2 separate regions of the Homo sapiens genome follow, and region 1 is linked to region 2. The links come from fine-mapping of genetic effects on gene expression. A gene starts in region 2. The other region holds a variant in brackets. All regions are shown on one strand. Distances are between the middles of the regions.

The links. PIP is the estimated chance that this variant, and not a neighbour inherited with it, causes the effect. A credible set is the group of variants that fine-mapping cannot tell apart.
Region 1: its variant is the best candidate, but not a certain one, in a credible set for the expression of TLR5 in nasal epithelium (TOPMed, PIP 0.59).

The regions. Positions count from the first base shown.
Region 1 is chr1:223,092,353-223,097,729 of GRCh38, reverse strand. LOC102724046 (a long non-coding RNA gene) reads left to right here and starts at 1,845. Exons shown (of 2, transcript XR_007066892.1): 1 at 1,845-1,946; 2 at 3,256-5,377. The variant A/G (reference allele first, on the strand shown) is at 2,953.
Region 2 is chr1:223,140,938-223,146,314 of GRCh38, reverse strand. It overlaps TLR5 (toll like receptor 5), which reads left to right and starts at 3,067. Exons shown (of 6, transcript NM_003268.6): 1 at 3,067-3,119; 2 at 4,552-4,667. It overlaps LOC124904522 (a long non-coding RNA gene), which reads right to left and starts at 2,960. Exons shown (of 2, transcript XR_007066895.1): 1 at 2,717-2,960. RefSeq lists a silencer at 2,909-3,278.

The sequences.
Region 1 (5,377 bases), 49 kb after region 2:
TGGGAGTGTCCCCCCAGGAGAGTGGCAGAGGCAGGATGATTCAGGGTCAGCCCAAACCTTACAGATATTCCCCGAGGTGGCCAACGCAACCATGAGCAAGAGCCGAGGCCTTAGCCAACAAGACAATGGAGGGCAGCTCATATGAAGGGCAAAGCAAAGGCCAAAGTGAGAGAAGTAAGCGCTGTGACATGGAGACCAGCTCAGGATAGGATAGATGGCTCAGGAACCAGGCTGTTAAGGAGAGAATACTCAGCATTTCTGAGAACACGGCAGTTCGAGGACCCGTGCTGGTCTGGGCCCGCTCCCCCAGCCCCTGATGGGGGCCTGTGTGCTCTGCAAAGAGCTGTGCCCTGTGATGGGGGGTCTGTGACCTGGGAGGGAATACACTCAATCTCACATGGGTTGTGGAAGCCTGTGCTCCCCCCACAGCCAGGGAAGATCATGAGCTGCTTTGTGAGTGTGAGACATTACAGATACAACAGCCAATTGACTCAAACAAAACTATTGCAGGAAAGAAAAGGCTTTCTGAATTATGGAGTGCTGTGGGCTGAGTTGTGGACCCCCAAAATTTATATGTTGAAGTCCTACCCCTAGTGCCTCAGAATGTTCCTTTATTTGGAGATAGGGTCTGATAGAGTTTAGTTATTTGTCCCCCCAAATCTCATGTTGAAATGTAGTCCCCAGTGTGGAAGGTGGGGCCTGGTGGGAGGTGAGTGGCTCGTGGAGGAGGATTTCTCATGATTGGTTCAGCCCCATCCTCATGGTGCAGTCCTCATGACGGTGAGTGAGTTCTCGTGAGATCGGGTGGGTTGAAAGTGTGTGGCCCCTCCTTCTCCTTCTCTTGCACCTGCTTTGGCCATGAGATCTGCCTGCTCCACTTGCCTTCCGCCCTGAGTAAAAGCTCCCTGAGGCCTCCCCAGAAGCTGAGTAGATGCCATAGCCATGCTTCCTGTACAGCCCACAGAACCGTGAGCCAGTTAAACCTCTTTCCTTGATAAGTTACCTACCCTCAGGTATTTCTTTATAGCAGCGCAAGAACAGACTCATACAGGATCACTGCATGTGGAATCAGGTAAGACAAGGTCATACTGGAGTAGGAAAGGGGTTAATCCAATATGACTGGTGTCCTTAAAAAATGGGAAATTCATCGAGGGCAGATTGGATAAAGGAAATGTTGTACATATACACTATGGAATACTTCACAGCTATAAAAAAGGAGAAGATTATGTCCTTTGCAGGTACAGGAATGGAGCTAGAGGTCATCATCCTTAGCAAACTAATGCAGGAACAGAAAACCAAATGCCACATGTTCTCACTTATAAGTTGAAGGTAAATAATGAGAACACGTGGACACATAGAGGGGAATAGCACACACTGGGGCCTACTTGAGGGTAGAAGGTGGGAGGAAGGAGAGGATCAGAAAAAACGATTGGTTACTAGGCTTACTACCTGGTTGATGAAATAATCTGTACAGCAAACCCCAGTATCAAGAGTTTACCTATATAACAAAACTGCACATGTACCCCTGAACCTAAAATAAAAGCTTTTTATAAAAAGAAAAGAAAAAGGGCTGGGCATGATGGCTCACACCTGTAATCCCAGGACTTTAGGACACCCAGGTGGGTGGACTGCTAAGCTCAGGAGTTCAAGACCAGCCTAGGCAACATTGCGAAACCCCGTCTCTACAAAAATTAGCCAGGCATGGTGGCATGTACCTGAAGTCCCATCTACTTGCAGGGCTGAGGCCAGAGGATCGCTTGAACCCAGGAGGTGGAGATTGTAGTGAGTTGTATTTGTGCCACTGCACTCCAGCCTCGTTGACAGAGCAAGGGCAAGACCTTTTCTTTAAAAAAAAAAAAAGAAAGAAAGAAAAGAAAAAGAAAAGACAAGAAAAGAAAAGAAAAGGATATAATCAGCCAAATTCAAAATGTGTGAAATGCTACAAGGTAAGTGAACTAATTTTTTCCAATAAATAAATGATAAGAAAAAAGAGAGAAGAGGAAACTACTATAGATTTTAAGAAATTTAAGACATATCAACCAAACACAATGTGTACATAGACCTTGTTGAGATCCTGAACAAATTGACTTTTGGGGAAATGTGAACACTGAGTAGCTATCTGGTAATACTGGGTTTTTTGGTTTTGGTTTTGTTTTTTGAGACAGAGTCTCACTCTGTCACTCAGGCTGGAGTGCAGTGGTGTGATCTCGGCTCACTGCAACCTCTGCCTCCTGGGTTCAAGTGATTCTCCTGCTTCAGCCTCCTGTGTTGCTGGGAATATAGGTGCACGCCACCATGCCTGGCTAATTTTTGTACTTTTAGTAGAGACAGGGTCTCGCTATATTGGCCAGGCTGGTCCCTAATTCCTGACCTCAAGTGATCTACCCACCTCAGCCTCCCAAAGTGCTGGGATTACAGGTGTCAGCCACCATGACTGGCCAGGTGATACTGTTTTGTTCAGTTAATAGTGAGATAATTGTATCAAAATTATGTATTTAAGAGTTCTTGGCTGGGTGTGGTGGCTCACGTCTGTAATCCCAGCACTTTGTGGGAGGCCAAGGCAGGTGGATCACTTGAGATCAGGAGTTCAAGACCAGCCTGGCCAACATGGCAAAACCCTGTCTCTACTAAACACACACACAATTAGCTGGGCATGGTGGCATGCACCTGTTAGCCCAGCTACTCAGGAGGTTGAGGCATGAGAATTGCTTGAACCCAGGTAGTGGAGGTTGCAGTGAGCCAAGATAGCACCACTGCACTACAGCCTGGGCGACAGACTGAGACTCTGTGTCAAAAAAAAAAAAAAAAAAAGTTATCATTTAGAAGACATGTGACTGACATGTATGTAAATAAAATGATAAGGAGAATTTGCTTTAAAATATTTCCATAGAGATAGGTGCAGGGAGGAGGAACAAATGAGATAAGATTGGCCATTTGTTGGTCATTGTCGAC[A/G]CTATGTAATGGGTACATGGGGGTTCATTATACTATTCTATTTTTGTGTATGTTCAAAATTTTCTACTATTAAAAGTTTTTTTAATTTTAAAATAAAAAATAAGTAAAAATGGGAAATTTAGAGGTAGACACTCATGCAGGAAAAGTGCCAGGTGAAGATGAAGGCAGGGATCGTAGTGAAGCTTCTACAAGCCGAGGATCACCAGCAAACCACCAGAAGCCAAGGGAGAGGCCAGGAACAGACTCTCCCCACAGCCCTCAGAAGGGTCCAACCCTGCTGACACCTTGATCTTGGACTTCCAGCTTCCAGGACTGTGAAACAAGACATTTCTTTGGTTCAAGCCACTCCCTTAGTGCACATTGTTATGGCAGCCATGGAAAACCATCCACAGAGGGTCAGTTCCTATGGAGGTGGGGTGAGTGACGAGATGTTCCTGACTGGGCTGACAACGGAGGACGAGAGAGCTTGGGTGTGGATGGGAAAATAACTAGAAACTTCCCTTGATCTCTCAGCATTCTGTTCCATCCCTGTCACTTCGATGTCTCTCTTTCTTGAATATGGAAGCAGCCCTGGGCCCAGCTGCTGCAGGTGGCCAGGAAGGAGCCTGGGAGGATGACGGGGTTCCTGATCTGATAGAACTGGGCTGTGACTAGGCAGAACCCTGTTCCACCACACACACCCCAGTGGAGGTCAGTACCCCAAATCTGACACCAGGATGTAGCATGTCCATGGAGTCTGTCTGCTGACACCTGTCCCACCCTCCCCTGGCCCGTAACTTTGAGAGATACTGCAATTCCTACCGATGTTGCTGCCATCCTTTATTCAGCCCATTATCAGAAGTTATGACACATTGCAAAATGCTCAGGCTAGTTGAATTTCTGCAACAGGGCAAGGCGGTTAAATCCTGTCCTTCCTGGAGTCTCATTGACCAGGCTTTGAATCCCAATTCTACCATGGATTAGATTTGCAACTTTGGCAAATTGATGAACTCTTCTGAGCTTTGGACTAATAATAGGGTTTTGTGAGGAATACCTGAGATAATGCATGTACAACACCTTGCATGTTGTTTAGCACCTACTAGAAATGCAACCAACTCTAGCTGTTATCGCTAGTTTTTCTCTTGCTCCATCTCCATTCCTGAGATGTGCATGGCTACTCTGTGTTTGTTGTTGGGAAGAGCCGTAGACAGTCGTATCCTCTTCCTGAGAATGGTAACTGAGCTGCCCCCTTGGGACTGTCCAGGGGCTGGCCATTAGCCCCACGAGGCAGCAACAAAACCAACAAGACAAGTCTGTTTACTCTTCTGGTCTATAATTTAAAATGTGTTTGATGCTACTTTTTTTTTTTCTTTTTAGGACGTTCTGTATCTGTGATGAATGACCCCTGCATACATTATATCTTTCAGTAAAAACAGTGGTGTTTCAGTAGTGTTACTAGCTAAGCTGCTTAACTCTCACATTACAGACGTCAGTGAAGCCCCTTGGTAGGTAGTGTCTAAAATTAGATTTATCTGCTTATTTACACAATTATACTCTCATGAGTTTGAATGTTGGGGAAAGATCAAGAAAAAGACCAGATCACTAGATGGCAATAGCACACAAGAGCTTTATTTGGATGAAGCTTGGACAGAATGCATGGAAGGGGAAAGTCCCTTGCAGCAGAAGACCTTCCAGAGGCAGTGGCAGGGCCACCACCAGAAGAAAAGGGCAAGGACACTCCCAGGGGAGAGGAGGATCAGAGAGGAGGTTACAGGTCTAAGAGATGTCACAGGTCTAGAAGAAAAGAAAAGGAGCCAGGTGCAGTGGCTCACACCTGTAATCCCAGCACTTTGGGAGGCCCAGGCGGGCAGATTGCTGAGTTCAGGAGTTTGAGACCAGCCTAGGCAAACATGGTGAAACCCCATCTCTAAAAAAAGATTTAAAAATTAACCAGGCCTGGTGGCATGTACCTGAAGTCTCATTTACTTGGGGGGCTAAGGCTGGAGGATCGTTTGAACCCAAGAGGGTTCATGGTGGGGAGCATCATGGTGAGGAGTCTCTGGGTCAGAGAGCTCCAAAGGACAGCAGCCATTTGGGGTCTTTTGTAGCCCTGAGGTTCGTCTTACCTATGGTGAGAGGGTGTCGGGTGTAGTTTTGCAAATTATCGAAGCAGGCAGGCTCTAAATGGGCAAATAATATTTGGCCTACATTTAAAGCAATTGGATGTGCAAGAATTTGAGTTTGGTGCTGGCAGGCTTGAGTTAACGGTCCTGGGCTGTGGTGTGGAAGTAAACAGCATGGGGGCCAATACACAGGGGCTGTCTTGAACTCGTTCATACAATCCATTTATAACCTGTTTATAACTTGTTTATAACCCATTTATACCACATACCCCTAAAGCAAATACCTAGCAGATAGCATGCAGGGCCTATTTGCCTGGCCTCCT
Region 2 (5,377 bases):
AACTGGGCTTACTTTCTGCTAACCATCCCATCCCCCATTCCATTCATTTTACACACTGCCATTAGGGTTATAACTTCTTGTCTATAAATATGAAGGTGTGGTGCCACTCCATTGCTTAACACCATCCAGTGGATCCCCAAGCCCTACAGGGAGGCAGAGCATAGCCCAGACTCCTCAGCAGAACACATGTGCATGAACGTGGGATCTGGTGATTGCCTACCTACCTCTTCAACCGCCTCCATCCTTCACACAACCTGCGCTCCATTTACCAAACCACTGGCAGTTCCCCAAATGAGCCACATTCCTTCATTCGTCTCCTGCCCAGAATGCCCTCCCTCTGTCCCGTCCAGGTGACAAAGTCATCTTTTTCTTTTTCACCAAGTCCCAGATATAGGCACTCCCAGGCAGAGTTAGATACCTATATTATTGCAGCATTTATCAAATTACACTATAACCATTTATTTACATGTCCAACCCTACTCCCCCAGGCTGCAAGCTCCTGAGAGCCAGATCGTATTTAGATTTGTATTTCTGGCAAGAAGCACAAGGGCTACGGAAGCTTAATACACATTTGTTGAATGGATGGTTAGTTTTAAGAAGTACCTAATAAACCTTGGTATTTGTATTTCCTTGAATCTTGTTTTGGTTGCTACCTTTTTTAATGGAAATAGTCACTACTGCTTATGTTTACAAGTTTATTGAGTTCTAATTTTATCTTTTAAGATAAAGATTGCTGATATCATTCATTCACTCATTCATTCATCAATAAATATTTATAGGGAGACACTTGTCAGATACTGGATTTGAAGTGAACAAATCAGACATGGCCCCTACCCTCGTGAGGCTTACAGTCTATTAAATCTATTAAGTATGAAGGACAGGCTGACCTTGAACCAATAAACATGTCCATGTAAAATCATAAATTGAAATGAGAGTTGTGAAGGAAAAGAATAGGTTATAAAGAGGAAGAATAATGGGAGGGACCTAATTTAATTAGAAGAGTTAGGGAAGTTCTCTTTGAAGAAGTTACATTACAGGGAACACTAAAATGTGGGTAGGAGTGAGCTACGCAAAGTCATGGAGAAAGAGTATTCCAGGTAGAAGAAATAGCATGCGTGAAGACCTTAAGCAAGTGGAAGGCAGCTGCTGAGGCTGGGGACTGGGAGGTTGGGGCTGGAAGCAGACAAGCCTAGAGAAGTTGTCAGGGGCTAGACGATGGGGTTTTGACCTAGAATATAAACTTTGTTTGTAGTTCATAGGGAAGACATTGAAGGTTTAATATATGGGAATGACGGGAACCTCTGGCAGGGCTCTGCCTGTGAGCATCACATAGCACCCCGAGGATGTGTTTGCTACTCTAGGTTTCAGTGGAGAAAAAAGCAAGTGACAACCCTTCTGTTCCTGCTCAGCAAAAGCTTTGATCACCAGCCCCCTTCCCCTGAATATACTGGAGAAAAATAACAGAAGTGCATTTCAAGGTCCACATGTGAGAAGACCCTAAGCTGTCCTGGCTGTTCAGGTAGAAGTTGTCATCTTCCTCAATGATCTCGGCTGTTGGAAGACATGGCCAGGCAGACAGAATCTAAAAGTTCTTCCAGGTGTGACATGAGTCCCTGGAGCTCAGTGACAGAAACCAGTGTCCAAAACCAGATGCCACCCTGGGGAGGGGGCTTTGGGAGTTCCTGGGAGGCCATAACACCGTCTGGAAGGCTCCTCTCTCCCACATATTCACAAAGTTGCATGATAAGCCAGGCCCCTGCTGGTCTTGCAGCATCCACCTATGATGCAGAGTAAACAGTGCCACACGTCAAGCTGTCCCCAACCTTGCCCTCGGTTCCACTACCAAAAGAGGGAACACTGGGCTTGCCCCAGCAAGGTGTTATTTATGTCAGGCTAGGGCCACTGTGGCTCCCAGCTCTTACTGCTTTCTAGGTGCCCTTACAGACTTCCCCACTGCCCCCTGCATATGCCAGAGTGTGAACATCCCCTCCCTCTCCACAGCCCCCACAGTGGGGTTCGGGTGGGCAGGGAGGTGGTTTCATCCCTCTACATACAGCCCTTGGAGACCTACCTAGGCAATTTGTCACTCAGGCTTCAAGCTGCCAGCCGAGGAGGGGAGCTGAGAAGACTCTATAATGAGATCTTTGCACTGTAATTAAGTGCCAGGCTTTGTTTTACACCTATCTTTCCCGCCTTGCCCGATCCCACCGCCAAGCTCCTCCAGGCAGTGAGTGGGGAGTGTCAGCTGCTCTGTGATTACACCCCAAGTGGCAGGTGGCAGGGAGCTCCTCCGCCTGCAGTCTGCGCCCCACCCCCAGGCTTCCCCCACCACCAGTCTTAACTCAAGACAGTGCTATTTCTGTCCTTGAACTGGGTTTCACCCCAGAAAGCCACTCCACCGCTTTCTCATAAGGCTACCTCCTTTTAACCCTGTGGTTGCACGGCCTCTGGGGTGTCCATTTCTTTCTTTTGACACGTCCCTTTTCCTGAAAGTTTCAGCAAACCCCATAGGCAGAGGGAGTTAGAAAAAGGAAAAGAGAAGTTAGGGCAGGAGGAGCACTGTTCTTATAGGACAGGAAGGGTCTGTCTTCTCTCTTGGGTCCTCCACACAAAATCGGAGCTTCCAAACACCCCAGCTCCCAAACATATGCAGCAGATTCTGCTGACAGGAATGTGTCACTGTGATCTTCACATTTTAGCCTGAAGTTTAGCCTACCTGAAGAAGCACCGGAGTGGGAGTGGGAGAACATGGGATGGTGCTTCTCTTTGGCCTGGCTGTGCTTTTGGACACTTCAGGTCTTCGGCCTGGGTTTCCTCCTCCGTACGATGAGGAGAGGATGGGAGGGGGCAATGCTGGCATGTGTGATCTCGATAGACACTGTGGAAGTCTGCAGAGACCGGAGCATAACCTCTGCCTCCTCTCCCCGGGCCTAGCCTCTCACAGCCCTCAGAGAAAACCCTGAGCTGCGGCGTGGCCGAGACGGGGGCGTGGCCTGGCAGGTGGGCGGGCCCTTCCGTGGGCGGGGCCGCGAGGTTTTCAGGAGCCCGAGCGAGGGCGCCGCTTTTGCGTCCGGGAGGAGCCAACCGTGGCGCAGGCGGCGCGGGGAGGCGTCCCAGAGGTGAGCGCCCTGCAGCGGCAGGGGATGGGCCGGGGGCCCTAAGTCGTAGGCAGCGCGGGGCGGGGACGCGGCTGCCTGCGGAGGTCGGACTCCTCTCCGCCCTCCTCCCGGGCTGTCCGGGTCTATTTTCCAGTCTATGTCCAACTCGCGCCGCCTCACTAGGCGGCGCTCTCTGCCCCGCGGCACCCGCGAGACGTGGGGTCCCTCGGCCCAGGGACGGGGTGAGCGTGTCATGTGGGTGCCCTGTGCCCGGCAGGTTGGAGACGAAGAGACCTCGGCACAGACGAAGTCACTCACATCCTCGCTTTGAAACAGAGCGGGTCCTTCTTGTGCTGTCTCGCTGTCACTCTCGCCCCCACCCTGTGGAAGAGGCAGGTGGCTTGTCCCCAGTCACTTTCTTCCTTGGAAAAGGGAGACAGAGGGCCATCTCCAGCAGGGCCATGGAAATCCCAGAAAGTCACTGAGCTGCTCAACAAAAGGCCCTAAACACCCCACCCCACAGCACCAGGCAGTGCACACTGGCCAAGACTCCGTGGTAAATATTGCTGGCCTTTATGTTGAGAGGGGGAAAAAAAAGCCTGCCTGTGAAGATCATTGCCCAGTGGCCATGCTCCTGTGAAAACACAATTGGAAAGCCATTTCCTAAGGGGCGAGGGTGGGTCTGGGACCATGCTGTGGCTTGGGTGATTGGTGGTTGCAGGAGTGAGGGTGCTGCCCTGGGAAGGCGCTGAGGCCCTGTTGGGTGGGAATCGACGGCTGCGGCTTTCTCCCGGAGGAGGGAGAGCGGTGTTGTTACCTAGTGTTGGGAACACATCCGTCCAGCACCGTGAACTGCAAACAAGCAGAGTAACCCTAGTGTCCTTCAGATACTGTTGCTGAGCAGTCACCTAGTCAATGAGATGATCTGTTTGGACGGCAAGTGCATCTGTAATGCCGCCCTCTTGCTCAGTGCCTGGAAGAGGCATTGGTGACTCCCCGCTAATGCTAGGGGTAGCTACCGTGCAGGAGCAGTCAGGCTCTTGCAGGGCCAATGTGGTTTCATCAATTTTCTCCTGCATTTACCCAGCCCCTCCGAATTCTGAGAAGTGCGTCCAAGATCTCTTGGACTCCTTGACTCAGTTCACCCTTGTTCTTGTGGGCAGAAAACAATTCCCAGTGTGCCATGCACAGCCAGTCAGAAGGGAAGCCCTGGAGCAGGGCCCTGGGAGAAGTTCTGTGGGGCTGGATGCTAATTATTCAGTTACTGGATTGTGGGGAAATTCCAGGGGAGGTCCCAGAGGAGAGACCGTGCTAAAGCTAATTACTAAGCAGTACAAAAATAATCTCTCTCTCTCTCTTTCTCTCTCTCTCTCTCTCTCTCTCTCTCTCTCTCTATATATATATATATATATATATATATATATATATATATGTAATTTTTTTTTTGAGACAGTCTCACTCTGCCGCCCAGGCTGGACTGCAGTGACACAATCTCGGCTGACTGCAACCACTGCCTCCAGGGTTCAAGCGATTCTCTTGCCTCAGCCTCCCAAGTAGCTGGGATTACAGGTACCCACCACTACGCCTGTCTAATTTTTGTATTTTTAGTAGAAATGGGGTTTCACCATGTTGGTCGGGCTGATCTCAAACTCCTGACCTCAGGTGATCCGCCTGTCTTGGCCTCCCACAGTGCTGGCATTACAGGTGTGAGCCACTGTGCTGGGCCAAAAATAATCTAAATTTCAACAATCAGCATGACCATGCCTGTGCGTATGACCCTAATTATCAGTCTGACTGATTCTTCCTTCCAAAATGATGGCAGAGGATCACCTCTTTGGATATTTACAGCTCTGAGCAAAGCAAAAAGCATGTAGGTGCCATTGTCTGAATGCAAAACCAGCCATGCCAGGTTTTCGGTGTTGTTTCTGAGGAGGGAGCGCCTCTCTGGAGGACGGTGTTTCCAGAACAGTGCCTCCGTTGTTCATTCCCGTGCATCAGGAAGTTTGGCTCTGCTGAGTGTTGAAAGCAAAACTCTCCTGTTTATTTGTCTCTGTATACTAACAGACTTAAACAGCAGACAGCACTGGAATGTCCAGTTACTGCATCCAGATGTGTTTGTTTCACTCTTAACATTGTGGAAAAGAATGCAGAAGGCAGATCCAAAGCTTCAATCAGATTTCTGAAGCTTAAGTGATTCCCAGCCTTGGTCCCTTAATGTGAGAGCAACAGCGTATAGTGTCTTCCGCTCTCTGGGACAAACCCAAGTTTGAGGCATAGTC